Linked DNA regions of Homo sapiens. The protein of the gene in region 6 purifies or fractionates together with the protein of the main gene of each other region. This does not show direct contact. Each region holds a gene or a part of one and is shown on either strand. Other genes may lie near its edges.

Evidence for each region.
Region 1: the proteins of FAHD2A (region 6) and MSRB2 fractionate together in Homo sapiens (co-fractionation; one large-scale study listed by BioGRID). This does not show direct contact.
Region 2: the proteins of FAHD2A (region 6) and NENF fractionate together in Homo sapiens (co-fractionation; one large-scale study listed by BioGRID). This does not show direct contact.
Region 3: the proteins of FAHD2A (region 6) and SPANXN3 purify together in Homo sapiens (co-immunoprecipitation; one large-scale study listed by IntAct). This does not show direct contact.
Region 4: the proteins of FAHD2A (region 6) and DBT purify together in Homo sapiens (affinity purification with mass spectrometry; 3 studies listed by BioGRID and IntAct, with this or other methods). This does not show direct contact.
Region 5: the proteins of FAHD2A (region 6) and GRHPR fractionate together in Homo sapiens (co-fractionation; one large-scale study listed by BioGRID). This does not show direct contact.

What each region holds. Positions count from the first base shown.
Region 1 is NC_000010.11:23,112,579-23,116,078, forward strand, and holds part of MSRB2 (methionine-R-sulfoxide reductase B2, mitochondrial precursor), read left to right. Parts: intron 1-3,500. UniProt on the Homo sapiens protein: Methionine-sulfoxide reductase that specifically reduces methionine (R)-sulfoxide back to methionine.
Region 2 is NC_000001.11:212,439,420-212,442,919, forward strand, and holds part of NENF (neudesin precursor), read left to right. Parts: intron 1-3,145; coding exon 3,146-3,206; intron 3,207-3,500. UniProt on the Homo sapiens protein: Acts as a neurotrophic factor in postnatal mature neurons enhancing neuronal survival. Promotes cell proliferation and neurogenesis in undifferentiated neural progenitor cells at the embryonic stage and inhibits differentiation of astrocytes.
Region 3 is NC_000023.11:143,508,235-143,511,355, reverse strand, and holds the end of SPANXN3 (sperm protein associated with the nucleus on the X chromosome N3), read left to right. Parts: intron 1-2,193; coding exon 2,194-2,541; 3' UTR 2,542-2,621; downstream 2,622-3,121.
Region 4 is NC_000001.11:100,215,335-100,218,834, forward strand, and holds part of DBT (lipoamide acyltransferase component of branched-chain alpha-keto acid dehydrogenase complex, mitochondrial isoform 1 precursor), read right to left. Parts: intron 3,414-3,500; coding exon 3,292-3,413; intron 866-3,291; coding exon 649-865; intron 1-648. UniProt on the Homo sapiens protein: The branched-chain alpha-keto dehydrogenase complex catalyzes the overall conversion of alpha-keto acids to acyl-CoA and CO(2).
Region 5 is NC_000009.12:37,425,696-37,429,195, forward strand, and holds part of GRHPR (glyoxylate reductase/hydroxypyruvate reductase), read left to right. Parts: intron 1-226; coding exon 227-299; intron 300-842; coding exon 843-959; intron 960-2,788; coding exon 2,789-2,877; exon of another isoform or gene 2,878-3,146; coding exon of another isoform or gene 3,147-3,237; intron 3,238-3,500. UniProt on the Homo sapiens protein: Enzyme with hydroxy-pyruvate reductase, glyoxylate reductase and D-glycerate dehydrogenase enzymatic activities. Reduces hydroxypyruvate to D-glycerate, glyoxylate to glycolate, oxidizes D-glycerate to hydroxypyruvate.
Region 6 is NC_000002.12:95,414,912-95,417,116, reverse strand, and holds the end of FAHD2A (oxaloacetate tautomerase FAHD2A, mitochondrial), read right to left. Parts: 3' UTR 501-2,205; downstream 1-500. UniProt on the Homo sapiens protein: Tautomerase that converts enol-oxaloacetate, a strong inhibitor of succinate dehydrogenase, to the physiological keto form of oxaloacetate. It is thereby required to maximize aerobic respiration efficiency by preventing succinate dehydrogenase inhibition.

The DNA.
Region 1 (3,500 bases), on a different chromosome or scaffold from region 6:
ATGTTTTTGTTGTTTTGTTTTGTTTTTTGAGATGGAGTCTCGCTCTGTCGCCCAGGCTGGAGTGCAGTGGCGCGATCTCGGCTCACTGCAACCTCTGCCTTCCAGGTTGAAGCGATTCTCCTGCCTCCTGAGTAGCTGGGATTACAGGCGTGTGCCACCATGCCTGGCTAATTTTTTGTATTATTAGTAGAGACGGGGTTTCACCATGTTAGCCAGGATGGTCTTGATCTCCTGACCTCAGGTGATCCACCCGCTTTGGCCTCCCAAAGTGCTGGGATTACAGGCGTGAGCCAGCGCACCCGGGCGTAATGATGTGTTCTTAAGCAATAGATCCCTCTTAGGGCTGTATACATGAATGCGCTTTTGATCCTGAGGAATTCTGGAGGATATATTCTAATTAATGAGAACATACAAATGCAGACTATATTCCTGAGACTTCTTCCTGTTCAAGAGGAGTTTTAGAAATATATTCTGGTTTTGCCTCTCATTTTCCTTCTCTTTCTGTCTCTGGTCTCCAGTCTCTATAGTAGGAAGCAGAGGTACAGAAAAAATAATTCCTTCAAATGCTTGTGTGGAGTGAAAGTGAAGGGAAAGTTGGTCAACCAAAACTAAGTAGTTCTTTTAACAAGTAAATGCAGGGCTCACTCCTTTGAGCTCCCTGCTCCAGCTTGGCTGCTTCCTGCCTGGGACTTCCCTTCATGCTGAGCTGGCCTCCTGGGATCTGCTCAGCCCCACTAATACTAATTGAAATTCCACTTATTTTTGGATCCCAGATTTCTCCTGAAACCTTCTCTGATAGCACACACCATGGGTTTTTTTTTAATCTGCTTCAAATTCCTATTAATTTATCAGTATCACACAATTTAGGACCTAATTATTCTCCTATTGGATCAAGTATTTTATTTAGTTAAGGAGATAAACTTGATTAGCTTTCGAGTCCCTTGGCCATCTTATGCTTCTTGGACAAGGCTCATGGAAGTTGTTATGGGATGAATTGTGTCTCCCAAAAAGACATGTTGAAGTCTTAATCCCTGTAAGCTGGGAATGTGACCTTATTTGGAAATAGGGTGGCTGCAGGTATAATTAGTTTAGATAAGATCATATTGGAGTAGGGTCAGCCCTAATTCCAAAATCACTGCTGTCCTTATAAGAAGAAGAGAAGCCCAGACAGAGAGGAGACAGCCATGTGAAAACGGAAGCAGAGATTGGTGATCCGCAGCTACAAACCGAAGACTGCCTACCTTAGAAGGTAGGAAGAGGCAAGGAGGGATTCCCTAGATGCTTCAGAGCCCTGTGGACACCTTGACTTTGGACTTCTATCTTCAAGATTGTGAGAGAGTACCACCCATTTTGTGGTACTTTGTTACAGCCACCTTGGAAACTAATACTTAGATGCTCCATAAGTACGTATTGATTGGTTGATTAATAATATCCATCCTGCTGCTTAGACATCATAGCAATGTTGGGACTATCAGAAGCTGTGGTTACGGGCTGAACGTGGTGACTCATGCCTGTAATCCCAGCACTTTGGGAGGCCAAGGCGGGTGGATCACTGCAGGTCAGGAGTTCGAGACCAGCCTGACCAGTATAGCAAAATCCTGTCTCTACTAAAAATACAAAAACTAGTTGGGCGTGGTAGCACATGCCTGTAATCCCAGCTACTAAGGAGGCTGAGGTAGGAGAATTGCTTGAACCCAGGAGGTAGAGGTTTCATTGAGCTGAGATTGAGCCACTGCACTCCAGCCTGAGTGACAGAGTGAGACTCCATCTCAAAAAAAAAAAAAAAAAAAGCTGTGATTATGAAATCACTGTGAAAATGTGAGGGAAGTGGCTGCAACTTCTTGAGCACTTACATGCCAGACACTGGGCTCTAGTACTTTGCAAACAATCCTCACCCTCCAATAAGGAGCTATTAAGACCCTCACTTAACAGATGTGAAAACTGAGGCTTAAAGAATTTAACTAACTTGTTCCAGGTCACTTGTCTAGTAAGTGATAGTGCAGGGATTTGGGCTCCACTGCACTCTTCTTGAGAGTGGGAAGCACCCCAGCAATGAAGGAGCCCTCTGGGCACGCGGCAGGTGCCATGCCCAGGCTCTTCATGTGCATCGTTTCGTCAGACCTCTCGGCAGCTCCCCGTAGTGTTATTATCATTCTCATTTCACGTGAGGAAACTGAGAGCTAGGAAGATGAAATAACTTGTCCAGGGTTCTGCAGCTTACAGGTAGCCAGCCAAAATATGAACCCACAGTTTTGGACTCCAGAGCCCACATTCTTCACTAGCTGAGCTTCCATTAAGCCACACGGGCAGCTCCGTTGACATAGGTGCCATCGCCTTTTGGTGCCTGCTTTCCTTATTACAGGTGTAAGTTTCCCAGAAGACATAACCAGCCTCTGAGAGTGATCCCAGCCAGTGTAACTCATGAGTTCCCTTTCCAGAGCCTTGTTCCCAGCCTCATCCACCAGACTTAGCGTCATTCTCCTCATCATCCTATAATTGTTGGAATGAGTTTGGTGCACAGTTTTGGAGAGCTTCTGCCTCTCCAAATCAGACACCTTTAATCAAAGGTGTCTGGGTCAAGAACACTTTCCAGAATGTGTTGTCACACTCCTAGGGACTCCAGACTCTCTTTCCTTAACTCGGAATGAAGTGACATTGCCCATCACTGCCACTTCCTCTCCTCCTTCTCCCTTTCTTCTTCTACATGAGCCTATTTGGAATGTGTTTATTAAAATCTATTGTGGGATCACATATTTCATGATCACAAATCTTCTTAAAATAAGAGGAAACAGAGCCTGATACTAGTTCACCTTTTACGTAATATCCTGATGTCGTATGTACCATGAGTAACTAAGTAATATTGTTAAAAACCTTCTGTATGCCCCATTCCCTCAAAGGAATAGAAATTCTTCTAAGAGGTTAGGGTTGTCAGTTATCACCAAGTGCCTGTGCTGTTGGTTTGGGACCTGTAGAACTTCCAGAAATCAAGGAAAACCAAAGCAAATAAAACGAAACAAAGTAAAAATCCCTTAGAGTATATGATTCAGAATGGTTTTAGTTCTTCAAGGGCAAACCTTACAATCTGCTAATCACTTAAATATGTATATTGGAATTTCTGATTGGCTTTAATATTTTGGTTCCCAGTCTTAACTTATATATGTTAGGCCTCTCATATTACTTGGTAAAAATCTCCCGATTCTGCTAATTGCATCAATAAAGGTTTATTGTTTCCCATAAAATGCTTTAATGAGTTTTTATTAGCCTTAGTTTCATTTATTTAAAAAATTTTATTGTATTCATAATTCTCAATCAAAATACCTTTAATGATCACTAGTTGATATATAATGTTGAGGATGGAAAGACTGGGATTAAAAGATACTTAATGATGTTTTTCCCTGAGCAGAGTGGCCAGATGAATGTTTTTGAACCCCTGGAGGAGGGTTGCAAAGAATCCGACCTGAATATGCAGACATTTCTAGTTGGACCCACAACTGCTCACA
Region 2 (3,500 bases), on a different chromosome or scaffold from region 6:
TAATCCCAGCTACTCGGGACACTGAGGCAGGAGAAATGCTTGAACCCGGGAGGCGGAGGTTGCGATGAGCCAAGATCATGACATTGCACTCCAGCCTGGGCAACAAGAGTGAAACTCCTTCTCATAAAAAAAAAAGATTGTTTGCCGGGCGTGTTGCCTCATGCCTATAATCCCAACACATTGAGAGGTCAAGGCAGGCAGATTACCTGAGGTCAGGAGTTCTAGACCAGCCTGGCCAACATGGTGAAACCTGTCTCTACTAAATATACAAAAAAAAAAAAAAAAAAAAAATTGGCCAGGCGTGGTGACACACGTCTGTAATCCCAGCTACCCTGGAGGCTGAGGCAGGAGAATAGCTTGAACCTGGGAGGCAGAGGTTGCAGTGAGCCGAGATTGTGCCACTGCACTCCAGCCTGGGCAACCGAGCTAGACTCCGTCCCCCCCCCACAAAAAAAGAAAAGAGTGTTAGTGATAAGATGCATGTTTTTGTTTATCTTATGTATGTGAATGTTATATTTATATGGCTGTTTGCCCATAGAAAATAAGTGTCGGCTGGGCATGGTGGCTTATGCCTGTAATCCCAGCCCTTTGGGAGGCCGAGGCGGGCAGATCACTTGAGGTTAGGAGTTTGAGACCAGCCTGGCCAACATGGTGAAACCCTGTCTCTGCTAAAAATACAAAAATTATCTGGGTATGGTGGCGTGTGCCTGTAATCCCAGCTACTCAGGAGACTGAGGCAGGAGAATCGCTTGAACTGGGGAGGTGGAGGTTGCAGTGAGCCGATATTGTACCACTGCACTCCAGTCTGGGTGACAGAGTAAGACTCTGTCTCAAAAAAAAAAAAAAAGGAAAAAGAAAAGAAGTATCAAGGAGAAAGCCACAGAATGGAAGATATGACAAAATACTGGGGTTAAATGATAGCTGTAATATATTTTTAAAATTGATATAAATACATAATCCCACTTGATAAATAATCAAAGCTGAGGAATAAGGAAACCTGGTAAAGGAAAGGCGGTAAATCATCACAAAGAAAAATGCCGTCTGCTGGCTTGGAAATCCAGGCCGTTTCAAATGACCCGTGTTAGATGAGGTGGAGCAAGTGTCCACAGAGTCAATGGCAGTCCTCTAGGGCCTGTCTTTAGGAGCCGGTTTGGAGTAATAAAAGGCAGCCCTCTGCTGAGCTCCTGTGTCGTGCCTGCTAGGTATTACGTACACTCTTTTCCTCAGCATTCCCGAGGCAAGTGGGCGTTACCCTCATATGACAGGCAGAGAAGCAGGCCTGAGTGGTTATGAGGCAGTGAGGTGTGTTTCCTTGGGCAAGTTGCTTAGCTTCTCTGAGCCTCAGTAGCTCCTCTGTCTGTTAAATGGGATCATGAAAACCCTTCACCATAAGCTGCACAAGCGCAAGAACACTAAGGCCCACCCCAAAGAGAAGGCCAAGCAGCAGGTGCTTGCAGAGCCTGAGATTCCTATGGACCCAGCAGCGACTCCCACCCTCGCCTGGGCTGTGAGCCACCTGGCTGATGCCCCTGCACCTCTGATGGCACTGAGACAAAGGAGAGATCTTGTCTTGGGTGTCTTGGGACTGTACCCATCGTCCCAGCCTGAGCCCAACTTGATGGAAGCTAGAAAAGTCATGCCATCCTTTTTTGTGTAATTCTTTCTTGGTGGGGAAATTCTGAGGTAACATTTTATGCCTGCTAATAGAGCCAAAAAAAAGTGTAAAGCCCATTGTTAGTAGAACGGTGGGGAAACAGCATTGCTTACATATCTCTAGCACTATAAATGTTGTTACAGGACAAACTAATAAAATATAAACAGTGATTAAGTTTTCATATACTTAGGCCCAGGAATTCCATATATTGAAATAGGGCACTTTCCTATGCATTCACTGGGTGGAGAGAAATTTTTAAATAAAGGCCTCAATGAAATAAGTCACCAAATTAGAAAGTAATTGATAGAAACATGTATTCATAATGCTGCCATTTATAGTTCTAAGGATTGGAAACCACCCAAATACCCAAAATAGAAAGCTAGCTAAACAAATAGGTAGACAATATCACTAATATAAGATGGGGCCCTACGCCGGGCATGGTGGCTCACGTCGGTAATCCCAGCACTTTGGGAGGCCTAGGTGGGTGGATCACCTGAGGTCAGGAGTTCGAGACCAGCCTGGCCAACATGATGAAACCCCATCTCTACTAAAAAGACAAAAAATTAGCGGGGCGTGGTGGCGGGTGCCTGTAATCCCAGCTACTCAGGAGGCTGAGTCAGGAGAATCACATGAACCCGGAAGGTGGAGGTTGCAGTGAGCTGACATTGCGCCATTGCACTCCAGCCTGGGCAGCATGAGTGAAACTCTGTCTCAAAAAAAAAGATGGGGCCCCATGGAGCTGTTTAAATGACAGTCATTTTGGTGGAAATGTTTATATGAGGGAATGTTACCTGTAAGAAGCAAAATATAAAATAGATTGCTCATATCAGTCACATCCGTGTATGTCTATTGATGAAGAGGAAAGGAAATTTGGACTGATAAGTAATTCATCATTTACTATTCTTTTGAATTTTCATCTCCATGAAGTTGCTTCTGTTCCTGATTTTCTTTTTTTTGAGACGGAGTCTCACTGTGTCACCCAGGCTGGGGTGCAGTGGCATGATCTTGGTTCACTACGACCTCTGCCTCCAGGGTTCAAGCAATTCTCCAGCCTCAGACTCGCGAGCAGCTGGGATTACAGGCATGTGCCACCATGCCCGGCTAATTTTTGTATTTTTAGTAGAGATAGGGTTTCACCATATTGGCCAGGCTGGTCTTGAACCCCTGACCTCAGGTGATCCGCCCGCCTTGGCCTCCCACAGTGCTGGGATTACAGGCGTGAGTCACTGTGCCTGGCCCCTGATTTTCTCTATAAAGGAGAGAATTGCCACATTCTTGTCATGAGACTTTATGACTTTTCCAAATTTCTGTGTGCGGGCATGACGCTGCCCAGGCAGGTGGCAAGCTCGCCAAGGACCAGGCTTAACAGAAAGCCTTTGGGACTTGACCCACTGCTCTTTGCTCAGCTTGTGATGGGAGAAGATTTTACTAAGTTGCACTGGAAGAGCTGGCTCTTCCCTTCCTCTTCACAGCTTCTCCCCTGCTTTCTAGGAAGATCAGCCCATCTACTTGGCAGTGAAGGGAGTGGTGTTTGATGTCACCTCCGGAAAGGGTAAGTGGTGTGGCATTTTGAATCTTCATTTCCAGGGAGCACAGAAGCCAGAGTGAGCAGCACTTGGAGGTGTGAGGAAAGGGAGGGAACATTAGGCAAGTCCTTTTCATTCCATTTTATTTTATTTTATTTTTTGAGACGGAGTTTCACTCTGTCACCCAGGCTGGAGTGCGGTGGCACGATCTTGGCTCACTGCAACCTCTGCCTTCTGGGTTCAAGCAATTCTCTGCCTCAGCCTCCCGAGTAGCTGGGATTACAGGCACCACCACCACCGCTGGCTAATTTTTTTGTATT
Region 3 (3,121 bases), on a different chromosome or scaffold from region 6:
GAGCAGGGGCGACTTTATTTATGCCAGCTAGAAGGCATGATATCATATGGCCTGGTTTCTGCCTGTCTACAGAAGTTGCCTGATAATTCCGATTGAGGTCAGTTCTGGGGACAGCTAGGGTCCCTACTGGGTTATGAGCAGCATCTTGTTGGTGGAGGGTGTTCTCATGGACCTGGGCACCCGTAAATATGTGTTCCCTGTCCTCCAGGGTGAGGGTAGAGGAGAGGATGACATATATGTCATGCCAGGTAAGGTCATAAGATTTAGGGAAGTACAGACATTCCTTGAGGAAGGAGGTAGGATCCATTGAAAAGGAGCAAAGTCTCTTTTCAGTATGGGAGAAGTCAGCTAGGGAACTTGAATTCAGATTATGCCTTCAGTCCTTGCAACCTCCTGCAAGGGAAAGACTTTGGAAGGCCTTTGGGCATGTGTCTGGTTTTCGGCAAAAGAGCGTTGGGCGTGAGACCTGGTTTGAGGTGGAGAAGGAAGGGGGATGGAGGGTGACAGTAAGGGGGTGGAGGAGCCGGATCCGAAGGAGAAGGTGGAGGGAATGGGAGAGGGCAGGAGCCAGACGAAGGGGTTTGTTGGCCAGGTTGAAATTCAGAGGAGGAAGGCTTGTCCCGAGGAGGAGGCATTTTGGGGGGTTTCTCCTTGAGGAGGAAGATTTGAAAAGGTGAACAAGATTGGCAGGAGAGTGAGTGAGGCATGAGCGGAGATAAGCAAAGCACTTCAGATCATTTACCATTGTGTTGGAGAAAGATTTTTAGATGATGTTGAATTTGAAAGTTGAATGTTTTGTTTTTTAGAAGAGGGGAGTGAATACTCTGGATGGGAGTGAATACTCTGGGGAAAGTGAGTACCCCAGAAGGGAGTGAATACCCCAGAGGGGAGTGAGTTCTCCAGAGGGAAGTGAATACCCCAGAGGAAAGTGAGTACTGGATTCCACCTGGGAGAAGGGACCTGGAGAGTTGGGACAGCCCCATAGCTATTCATGCTCCCCAGAGGACGGAGCGGCCAGAATGGCAAGTGTTCTGAGGCTGTCCCCTGAGAAGGGAGGCTGCAGTCACCTGGTGACTGGGGAGACCTCTCACCCAGCACTGGAATTTTTTTGGAGAACAAGCAGAAATAGAAAGGAATCCAGAAAGGAAGAATAGGGAGACTCACCCACGAATTGAAGCCCAGTGTTGGATGTGATGTCCAGCAATGGGGGTGATCCTGGTTGCAGCTGCTTGGGAAGGGGAAGGAAGGAAAAATAAGATGGAGAGTTTGATCAATATCTGGAGGTTAGTCCAGGGCTGGAGAAGATGAGAGAATAGGGGAAACAGGACTGGGAACAGACAGTCCACTCAGGATCTGGAAGTAGGCCCCGGTCTAGTTTGTGCTGCTTGCTGCTTTCTGCTTTCCAGGTTGCAAGAGAAAACTTACCCATTAGAACCCAATCACCGTCCTGGGTTTTGGCACCAAAGTGTTAGGTTTTGAAGGGAAGATGAGGGTGAAAGAAAGACAGACAGAGAGGGTGCATCTCAAACAACAACACAGGAATATTGCAGACACCTGTGGAAGTGGGGGACCAGCTTAATGCCAGAGCCCACTGCCGCTTATAGCCTGGGGTACTTACAGGTATGGGTGGGAGGGAGCTGGGCAGTATGGCTTGCTGCCCAGGAGGATATTGATAAGATGTTCTTATGATCAGGTGGTTTGGCCCTTTTTCCAGTGGAATATCATTGTGGTGTTCCTTTGCAGCTGCCTGGAAAGGGGAATGAAGGAAAAATAAGATGGAGAGTTTAATCAATATCTGGAGGTTAGCCCAGGGCTGGAGAAGATGAAAGAATAAGGGGAACAGGACTTATGATAGGGATGTTTCTTTAGTTGAGCCTTTGTCCACCTTGTGGTCAGGTGGTTAGGCAGGATGTTGCTCATGGCCTGAACCCCCATGGAATGTTTCACTTTGACCAAGGTCTGCAACATAGCAAAAACTTACAAAATCATGCAGTTTGGACTAACAGGTGACTCTACCCATGCTCCTCTTCTTCTTCTGCATAGATACCTACCCTATGATTTCACCTTGTTCTTCTCTGGCACACACCCCTTCCTCCACCTGCATTCCTTCTCATAAAGCCCCCCTTGCTATCTAGTCTCTATCCTATTCACCCAAAATAATGTCTTTCTGGCCTCTCCCTATTTTCTTACCAGATGCAAGAGGTACCAAACAGAGTCTTAGCCCCCGAACAGAGTTTGAAGAACACAAAAACATCAGAATATCCAATAATATTTGTGTATTACCTCAGGAAGGGTAAGAAAATAAATTCAAATCAACTGGAGAATGAACAGTCCCAAGAGAACTCCATCAATCCAATCCAAAAGGAGGAGGACGAAGGCGTAGACTTATCTGAAGGATCTTCAAATGAGGATGAAGACCTAGGCCCATGTGAAGGACCTTCAAAGGAGGACAAAGATCTAGACTCATCTGAAGGATCCTCACAGGAGGATGAAGACCTAGGCTTATCTGAAGGATCTTCACAGGACAGTGGGGAGGATTAGTCACACATGGAGAAACCAAATTGGACAAATCATCACCACTGATGGCGATGATTACAATAAAATCAAGTTTAAGGAGCTGATGACTGTGTTTATCTCTGCCTGTTGTCTGGTGTGGGGTGGGGAAGGGAAGGGAAGAGGTAGGCATTTGAGAAGGGAGGGATATGAGGTCCTGTAGGTTGGGAGACGGACCCACAGGTTGACAGTTAGCCAGACATTGCAAATAAGGACTGGCGGAGGACTGATTCCTCAGACAAATTTTCTTCTTAAAATTTTGTCTTACAGGAGAGGAAGAAAAGGACATGGTGTTTCTTGGAGCATGTGATTGTGTAGAAGGGTGTACAAAAAGATCTGTATTCGCTGGGCATGGTGGCTCATGCCTCTAATCCCAGCACTTTGGGAGGCTGAGACTGGCAGTCACCTGAGGTCAGGAGTTTGAGACCAGCATGGGCCAACATGGTGAACCCCTGTCTCTACTAAAAAATATATAAAAATTAGCCAGGCATGGTGTCAGGCACCTGTAATCCCAGCTACTTGAAGGCCAAGGCAGGAGAATCGCTTGAACCCAGGAGGTGGAAGTTGC
Region 4 (3,500 bases), on a different chromosome or scaffold from region 6:
CAAATCAGAACTAGTTATTTTGAAAGCTAACTACAAATAGTGAATGTTTAAAATGTCCTGTGTGTCTTCAAACAGAGCAATTATCAATATACAAGTTTATATTTCAAGAAACCTGCTAACGTATTACTCTTCAGAAGATAATGATACACATAAATTGTAAGTGTTTCCTGGAAAAGCTATGCTATTTCACCATTTAAAAATTATGGCCAGGCGCAGTGGCTCACGCCTGTAATCCCTGCACTGTGGGAGGCTGAGGAGGGTGGATCACCTGAGGTCAGGAGTTCGAGACCAGCCTGGCCAACATGATGAAACCCTGTCTCTACTAAAAATACAAAAAATTAGCTGAGCATGGTGGCGTGCACCTGTAATCCCAGATACTCAGGAGGCTGAGGCAGGAGAATTGCTTGAACCTGGGAGGCGGAGGCTGCAGTGAGCCAAGATCGTGCCACTGCACTACAGTCTGGACAACAAGAACAAAACTCCATCTCAAAAAAAAAGAAAAGAAAAGAAAAATTATATGCTGACTGAAGTTGAACTTTCCCTTCAGTAAGACTTGAAAACACCATATTATATACATTTATCTACTGAGGTAGCTTCCCCCAAAATAAATGAACTATTGCCTTATAGTATTGTTATTATTATCATTACCTTTTATGGGTTCTGTTTTGTCTTTGCCTGTGAATACCGGAGGTTTTGATACTAGTATAGGAACAGTCATGTCTTTTGGCTTTGGTGGAGGTGGCATAATTTCAACTTTGGGTGAAGGAGGCAATATAGCTCCTGTCTGCTTTTCCAAATAGTTGAGGATATCTTCTTTAAGTATTCTGCCATCTTTTCCTGAGCCAACAACTTCACTCAGCTTAATCTAAAAAATGATATATTTTAATGCCAAAAATACAACTATTTAAAAACATCATTAAAGTTTCAAAATGGAATTTGATCAACTGACAGTAAAATATATCTGTCCAATAAATTAGTAAAAGGAAATAACCTTTTCATTTTCTACTTAAGTAATCATTACTTTTGTATATACTGTTCACATATGCATGTGGTAACCATCAGGTATCTATATTATATATAATCTAGAGCTATTTATGAAAACTTACTTTTTAAAAAAATTTTTTGTAGAGACAGGGTCTCACTCTGTTGCCCTGGCTGGTCTTGAACTCCTAGCCTCAAGCTATCCTCTCACCTCAGCCTCCCAAAAGTGCTGGAATTACAGGCGTGAGCCACTATGCCCAGCTGAAAACTTACATTTTTATACTCAAGTATTTTAAAATCTCTTGCATAATTCTTACTCGACCTTTTCTATTCTTGGGGACTACATAAGAAGAGGGAGAGCTGAGAATTTAAGAGAAACTAAATGCTATACCAAATTTAGACCAATGTTTCTGACACTGGCTACCAGTTAAAAACGTAACAACTTAAATAATCATAATACAAAAGCTCTCTCAAATTAGTTATTTTTCTGGTAGTTGCTTTGGAAAGATCAGTACAAAACATTTAATTCTATTTAAATAAAAATAAACATAAAAGCTTGGAATGATCTCCTCATATATAGTATGTATTAATTTCTTAGGGATAGGCCCCATTTCATTTGTATTAGTGCATCTCTAAGGATGACTAAAATAATAAAGGACTTTACTAAGGCAAACACTAAGTTTGTAACAAATGGACTATGAAAATTTAAACAAATAATTTTTAGGCAGTTACAAACAACTGTAAATGCCACTGGTTCTTAATTTTAAACAAACTCAATTCATAAATATGCAAATTCAAAGAAAAAAGATGATTTCTGATAACTAAATCCAATATTTAATTTTTAGTAATCATACAAGCACTCTACCCAAGTATTCTATACCCATCTTTAGGGAGTGTTTTAGGAAAGCCAAATCATACATTTCTTCTATATATTTCTTTCTATATTATTAAGAAAAAAATTATTAAAATGCTTTATAGATTTCAAAGCAAAATGTTAAATCATTATTTCATCTGATGCCCTTAATAACCTAATGTTCCACGTTACTATATCTATTTTCTGTTATGCTAAATGGTCTTCATACTTAAACACATTTAAGGGTTACATAACATTTTATCAAGGATACATAACATAATTTGAATGTGTATGCATCTTCTAATTTTTGGCTATATAAAATACAAGGAAGAATGATTCCTAGATTATTTTCTTGGGATAGTTCCCCAGTGGCAGGATAACTGGCTGAAAGAATATGAACATTTTAATGACTCTATTACATATTTCACAAAATATAAACTTTTATTTTTTTCCCACAGCAACCTTACTTTTCTCAAAAAGAGACAAACAAAAAGTCTCATTGTGGGGCACAGTGGAAAGTATTCAGGTTTCAGAACCAGACAGATTTGTGTTCAAATCCCTAGTTCAGCTTACTTGGTTTTAGATAAGTTAATCAACCTGCCTGCAGGGTCCTTGTGAGGATTACAGATGTGTCTATAGTGTCTGGCACATATGTGCTCAAATAATGGAGGCAATGATTGTTGAGGTTTATATAACATCTAACAGCACAGGTTTTGGAGTGATATAGACTCACTTTTGAATTCTGGCTCTTGCTATGTTAGCTGTGTGACTTTAGACTAGTTACTTAAACCCTCCAAGTCTTAAAATAGCTCCTTATCTTACAGGGTTAAATGAGAATACGTAAATACCTATCCCAGTGCCAGGGAGCCACCCTGCCTGGCATTCCACCTTCCATTCAGTCAATGACTGGCAGAGGAAATACAAAAGGCCGGCCTCCTTGCCTCAAAGCAGTAATTCTGTGGTTCTCCCTTGCACCCTCAGATCAGGCCAGAGTCTTTCTTTTTTTACTTAGGACCATGGCAAGCTTTGGGACAGGCCAGATGCTTGATACCATAACCATGTCTGGCCAATTTCCCTTCTCTTCTCTTTTTTATCTTGCTTCCTTCAGTCCCTTTACAGGTTTTCCCTCCTTCAAATTCCTATCTCATGCTGTGCCTCTAGAGCACCTGACATAAGACCTGGTATTTACAAGTGCTCAGTAAATGGTAGCTCTTACTGTTATTAGGCTCTAAGAAAGAATAATAAAATCATACTGCTCAATTGATAGTAAGTAATAAGTTTACAACTTCTCATTTCTCCCATGTATTTTTATGCAACTATTGCTTTTCAGTAGCAAATATCTTCATGTTTCCTTAATTTCATTGAGCTATTTCATCATGGGATAGTTGGCTAATTTTTCAGAGATACAAATGTACACTTCCTATACAATCTCAGACTTAAATATTAAGAGAACTTACATTGTTTTCCATTGCCAGACGGCGAACTGCAGGAGTTGCCAGTGTTTTTCGGCCCTTTATCTCTTGGTGTGTATGTTCATCATGAGACACTGCAGGAGTTTCAACAACATCTTCTTCTGAATCTGGTAACAAGGTAAAACTTAACTTCAGTTGAAAAAAAATTTTTTTTTTTTACTAAGATGTAAAGTAAGGCCACTAAGATGTGGCCT
Region 5 (3,500 bases), on a different chromosome or scaffold from region 6:
AGGTGAACCCGGCTCTGCCTGTGACTGAGCCAGGCCACTTAACCTCCCTGAACTGCAGTGTCTGAGGCTGTCAAAGGGGATTATTCAGAGTTTTAACTGAAGAACAGAGATGTCAGCCTCTTATTCTAAGAAAACAATAATAAGCGGTGTCCCCATGATAGTCCCCAGTGCTGTGGCTTTGAGTTCCTCGAGGAAAGATACTAACAATGCACTTTCTGCACAACAGGGGCCAATCTCAAAGTCATCAGCACCATGTCTGTGGGCATCGACCACTTGGCTTTGGATGAAATCAAGAAGCGGTAACTGCAGCTTGGGATCTGGAGGGGGCCTAGAGAGAGGGGTGGCTATGAGAGAAAGAAGAGCTGTTGATTTGTTTTTACTGCATATCCCTCGGCCATTCAGGGAGAATGTGAGGTGGCTGATGATAGAATCTGTCCACATGTGCACAGGTCAGTTACAATAAACCCCAGCAGTCAGAAACAGTGGGTAACTTCTGTGTAGGTGGCACCCTTTCACATTCATTATCTTTTTTGATCCCCACAACAATACCTTGAAGTAGCAAAGGCAGGTGTTATTCTTTCTGTTTCAGATGAGGAAATTCAGAAAGGTTAAGTTACTTGTTCAGTCCCTGAACCCTGATCTTCCATCTTCATATCCTTCCAAAGTGGGAGATAATCTAAATAGGAATGAGGACTGCCCGTTTTTGAGTGCTCATTTATAGTTCTGAGCTTCCTGGCAGGCAGATCAAAGAGGGAGCAAAGTAACTCCATGGAAATGTCCCAGCAGTAGACATTGGTAAATATGGTTGAGGCTGATGTTACCACCAGATGTCTGATTCGTAGTGGGATCCGAGTTGGCTACACCCCAGATGTCCTGACAGATACCACCGCCGAACTCGCAGTCTCCCTGCTACTTACCACCTGCCGCCGGTTGCCGGAGGCCATCGAGGAAGTGAAGAAGTAAGTGAACGCAGACCAGGTGCGGTGGCTCACGGCTGTAATCCCAGCACTTTGGGAGGCCAAAGTGAGCGGATCATGAGGTTAGGAGTTCGAGACCAGTCTGGCCAACATAGTGAAACCCCGTCTCTAGTAAAAATACAAAAAAAATTAGCTGGGTGTGGTGGTGGGTCCCTGTAATCCCAGCTACTTGGGAGGCTGAGGCAGGAGAATCATGTGAACCCAGGAGACAGAGGTTGCAGTGAGCTGAGATCACACCATTGCACTCCAGCCCAGGTGACGGTGTGAGACTCTGTCTCAAAAAAAAAAAGAAAAATAAGTGAACGCCTGGCAGGAACGTTGGCTCTGCTCAGCACTGGATCCTGATCACTGTGCCAGTCCAGCCCACGCATAGTCCCTGACCCCAGGTGTGCCCCATTGAGTGAGGACTCAGCTAAAATAAAGCACAAAGCAGAGCTGCAATAAGGGCAGAAAGGGAAGTGGTGAGAGAAGAGGATGAGGGAGGACAAACAAGTTCTGCTGGTGGGTGAGGGCTGGCAGGGAGAGTGTGGATCAGGGAGGGCTTCACAGAATAAGTAGCAGGTGGGCGTCCGCTTGAGTCCTGAAAGCTGCAGGTCCACCATCCCTTAGATCCCAAAATCTAAAAAGCTCGGACAGCTGAAAGTTCTTTCATACTAACAGGAGACTATTTAAGGCTTTTATTTCTCCCATTTAATGTGACTTTCCTAAGTTTTGCTGCAGATGTAACACTTTTAAAACAGGCTGCTGCCCAGACACTGCAGAGGGTGATGTGTGGAATCTACCACGTGCGCCATGCTGCCTTTCTAAAGGCCAAACAGTTTTAAAATCTAGCCTGAAGGTTTCAGATCAGGGATTTCGGCCTGTATATCAAGAGTTAGAGTTGGCCGGGCACGGTGGCTCACACCTGTAATCCCAGCACTTTGGGAGGCCGAGGCGGGCAGATTGTTTGAGCCTCAGGAGTTGGAGAACAGCTTGGGCAATGTGGCAAAAGTCTGTCTCTACAAAAAATACAAAAATTAGGCAGGCGTGGTGTTACACGCCTGTAGTCCCAACTACTCGGGAGGCTGAGGTGGGAGGATTGCTTGAACCCAGGAGGCAGAGGCTGCAGTGAACCGAGATCATGTCACTGTACTCCAGTCTGGGCGACACAGCAAGACCCTGTCTCCAAAAAAAAAAAAAAAAAAAGTTGGGGGAAGCATTCCATGTGCAGATGGAGGGACTGGCCCGAGTCAAGGTGGGAGGCGTGCAAACGCAGGCTCTCACAGTGCGTGGCCAGCAGCGTGGGCCCCGGCACGGGGCATGGAGCAGAGTAGACAGTGCTGAGTCCTGCTCACTGTCCTGTCTGGGGAGTCATCACATCTACTGGAGGTGGCTCAGGGCAGGCTCCATCTCTTGCCCAGGGCAGCAGGGTGGGCCCTGTGGCTGTACTCTTTGTTGCTGCCCTAAAGTGCCAAGAGAACTTGTTTTGGAATCATAAATCCTGAGTTTGCAGCCTGTTGCTCTCAACTCTTCCCTGGTTGTGTGACCTCAGGCAAGTCACCCTTTCTGGTTTGTTTTCCCATCTGCAAAACAGGATGAGAGCCAGTAAGGCCCCTTCCCGCCCTCAAGTTCTATGTCTCTGGTGGCTTTAAAGGTGGAGTCGTTTCTGCTGCTCATCTGCAGTGCCGAGTGGCAGTGCCTCATCCCACTCTCAGTCCGTGACCTGGAGGGTGGGTTTATACCTTGGACCACAGTCAGAGGTGCCGGGTTCTCAGCGGCCCCCATCTTGGTCCAAGGCTGGGCCTCTCACCTGCCCCTCTCTCTCCCCTCAGTGGTGGCTGGACCTCGTGGAAGCCCCTCTGGCTGTGTGGCTATGGACTCACGCAGAGCACTGTCGGCATCATCGGGCTGGGGCGCATAGGTGAGGCTCCCACCGGCCCGCTTGCCCGCCCCGGCTCTCACAGCGTGGTTTGCATCCCTGGCACCACGTGTCTGAAGGCTGAGAAGACCCACATGCTGTCAGGGCACTTTGCTTGCAGTAGAGATATCTCTAATGAGGGATACAGCTTTGTAAAACACAGGCAAATACATAAATAAACCAAAGCAGGATTCCTTAAGAACTCACCAGGTGATAAAAGCAAGTTGCCTAAGGGTCAGGGGGCTTCATGATTCCGGCTCCATAAAGAACAGATGAAGACTACAAATGTGTTGGGGCCGTTAGGAGTGGTTACCGTGAGAGAGCCCATTCCCCCGACACCTACTCCGGCTTGCGTTCTGGAAGGTATGTGACTCACAAAGCCCTAACTCGGGCCGGAGGGCTCAGTGGGCAGAGTTGATCTGCAGTTCTGCAGATGAGGCAGAGACACTTTTCTTCCAGTGGCCCTTATTTGGAGAAGCCTGGCAGAAGGGCGTGAGCCTAGCCAAGCAGCTATCTATTGGTGGTTCTCTGTCATCCTGCCTGGTGCAGGGGTGCGGGTGAGGGTGGAGAGTGTGGAGAACCTGTCTAGCCAACGAACAGCCCTGCCTCTCACTAGAGAGTTGCTT
Region 6 (2,205 bases):
ACTTTCTTTTTAGAAAAGATTGCATCATTCTTAGATGGCCATTCCTGGGATGGGCAGAGGGGGCACTCTGTGTGCCCCTTGCCTGCAGTGTGTTGGTGGGAGATACAGTCCCATGGCACATTTTCATCCTGTGACTTTCACCCACAGCTCTGTGGAAATGCTGCCTGGAAGAAAAGCATATCAGGGTACCTTTGGAGAGGTTGTCCTGGGTGGATCCTTAGGGTCTAGAGGTCTCAGCAGAGAGACGAGGGAAAGAAGGAGTGTTCAGGGGTAGTTATGTATTGGGAAATCCAAGCCTTTGTGTGGGTATCTCCTAGTTCATATGGAACCCAAGAATTCTCAACTATTCTCGAGGACTCTGCTTGGACCTTGTAAGGATCCGTGCCTTCCTGGATAGCTGAAACTCGGTGTCAGTCACATTTTCAACAGCTTTTATTGGGTACCCGCCTCTGCGTCTTGTATTGTCATAGCAGTTTACACACAGCAAGCCAGACCAGGAGTGAAGAATTCATGTCATTTGTTATTTTCTTTTATTTGTGAATATGTGTGGGGTTGGGAGACTGGGTGCTAGACATGAGCTGAGGTCCAGGCTAGGCACAGGGAGCTGACAGCTGCAGGACATGCTAATTGGTCTGGGAAGGCCTTTGGAATCTAGGGAATTGGCTTTCTGAGCTGAGGCGGGGTCCAGGCAAGGAGGCAACAGGCTGCAGGAATCACAAAGGGACCGGGGACCTCCATGTACCCAATATCTAGGTCTCATCAGTCGGAGAAACATTCTCAGCTCTTGGTGACCTTGTCCTCCCTCAACACGGTACTCACTGCATATGGACTCATTTGACAATTGCCACAAAGGCTTTGGCCTCAGAGGCACTTTAAGGATATAACAGTAGGAAAGGGAGGCTTGGGGAGCCAGAGAGTCACCCACACAAAGCCCCACACGTGTTCCTAGCAGAACCAGGATACACACCCAGGCTTCCTGAGGCCACATGTCCTCCCTGTGGCTGCCTGGTCATTCCCCTTCACCTAGCAGCTGTCTTGCTCCCATGTAGAACAGCAGGGCCCAGCGGCCACCTGCACCTCGCCATTTCCTCCAGCTCTGTGCTAGAAATGATGCAAGCAGGAAAATCATTTGCTTGTGGACCTACTATGTGTCAGGCACCTGCTGAACAGTAGCATTTGATGCTCTCGACGGCCTTAACAGGTCGGCACTGATCTGTTGATGCTGCAGTCGAGGAGCTTTAGCTTAGAGAGGTTAAATAGCATCCTCAAAGTCACCCAGGTCATGCTCTGCTTCTGGAGGGGCTGGGATGCAGCATGGGAGTGTGACCTCCTGCGCACGGACTGCACGGGCCGCCTCGCAGCCGGCATGGTGAGGTGAGATGAGTTGAGGTAAGCTCGCAGCTCCTTGGTGCCAGCCCTTCCACAACCAGAGCTGGGCGGCAGCAGGCTCTTCCCCAGCTTACCTGGGCAAGAGAGTGAGGACTGCACGGCTGGCGAGTGATACATGGAGAGTGTTGCCGCCTGCCTGACAGGCAGAAGATAAACAGCTCCCCGTTAAATCTCGCTTAATGCTGATATTTATAAATTTATTCAGCTTGTGTTTACCGAATCAAGAGAATGCCTAATAACATAACATGCTTCATCTCACATGTTCCTACTAATGAGAATGCAAGTATTGCTTTTTTTTTTTTTTTAACATTTCATTTGCTTTCCACTCACTCCACCCTGTTCTGTTGTTGTTGGCTTAGAGTTTAATCTGTTGCTAAACACTGGGAAGTCTGGGCTTCTCGGGTGTTAGTGAGGAGAGAGCCAAGGTGGGTCTGGGGCAGTGGCTGGACCAAGGCCTCCAAACTGTGCCCTGTCCTACATGCAGTGCTTGGTGGACATGGAGTTGGCATACCCAAAGGATGGGCCATACTGAGGGAAAATGAAAGTCCTGGTGTCCTCTGCTGTATTTTGGGGTGGCTTCGTGCATTGGGTCAGGGTTGCAGTATTTGGGGGCTTCGGGACAAAAAATTTAGAGTAGAGCAGTGTCCTTGGCTTTGGACAGACAGGAGGATGGACAGAATGACCAAGGAAACATAAGCAACATTTGTGGGGTGTGGTATAGCTGGGTGTGAGGATGAGTGTGTGAGAGGGGTGGAGGGCTCCGTCTCTACCTTTGTTTAATCTGCTTACTGAGTTATTGGTTTTGTTTTTTGTTTT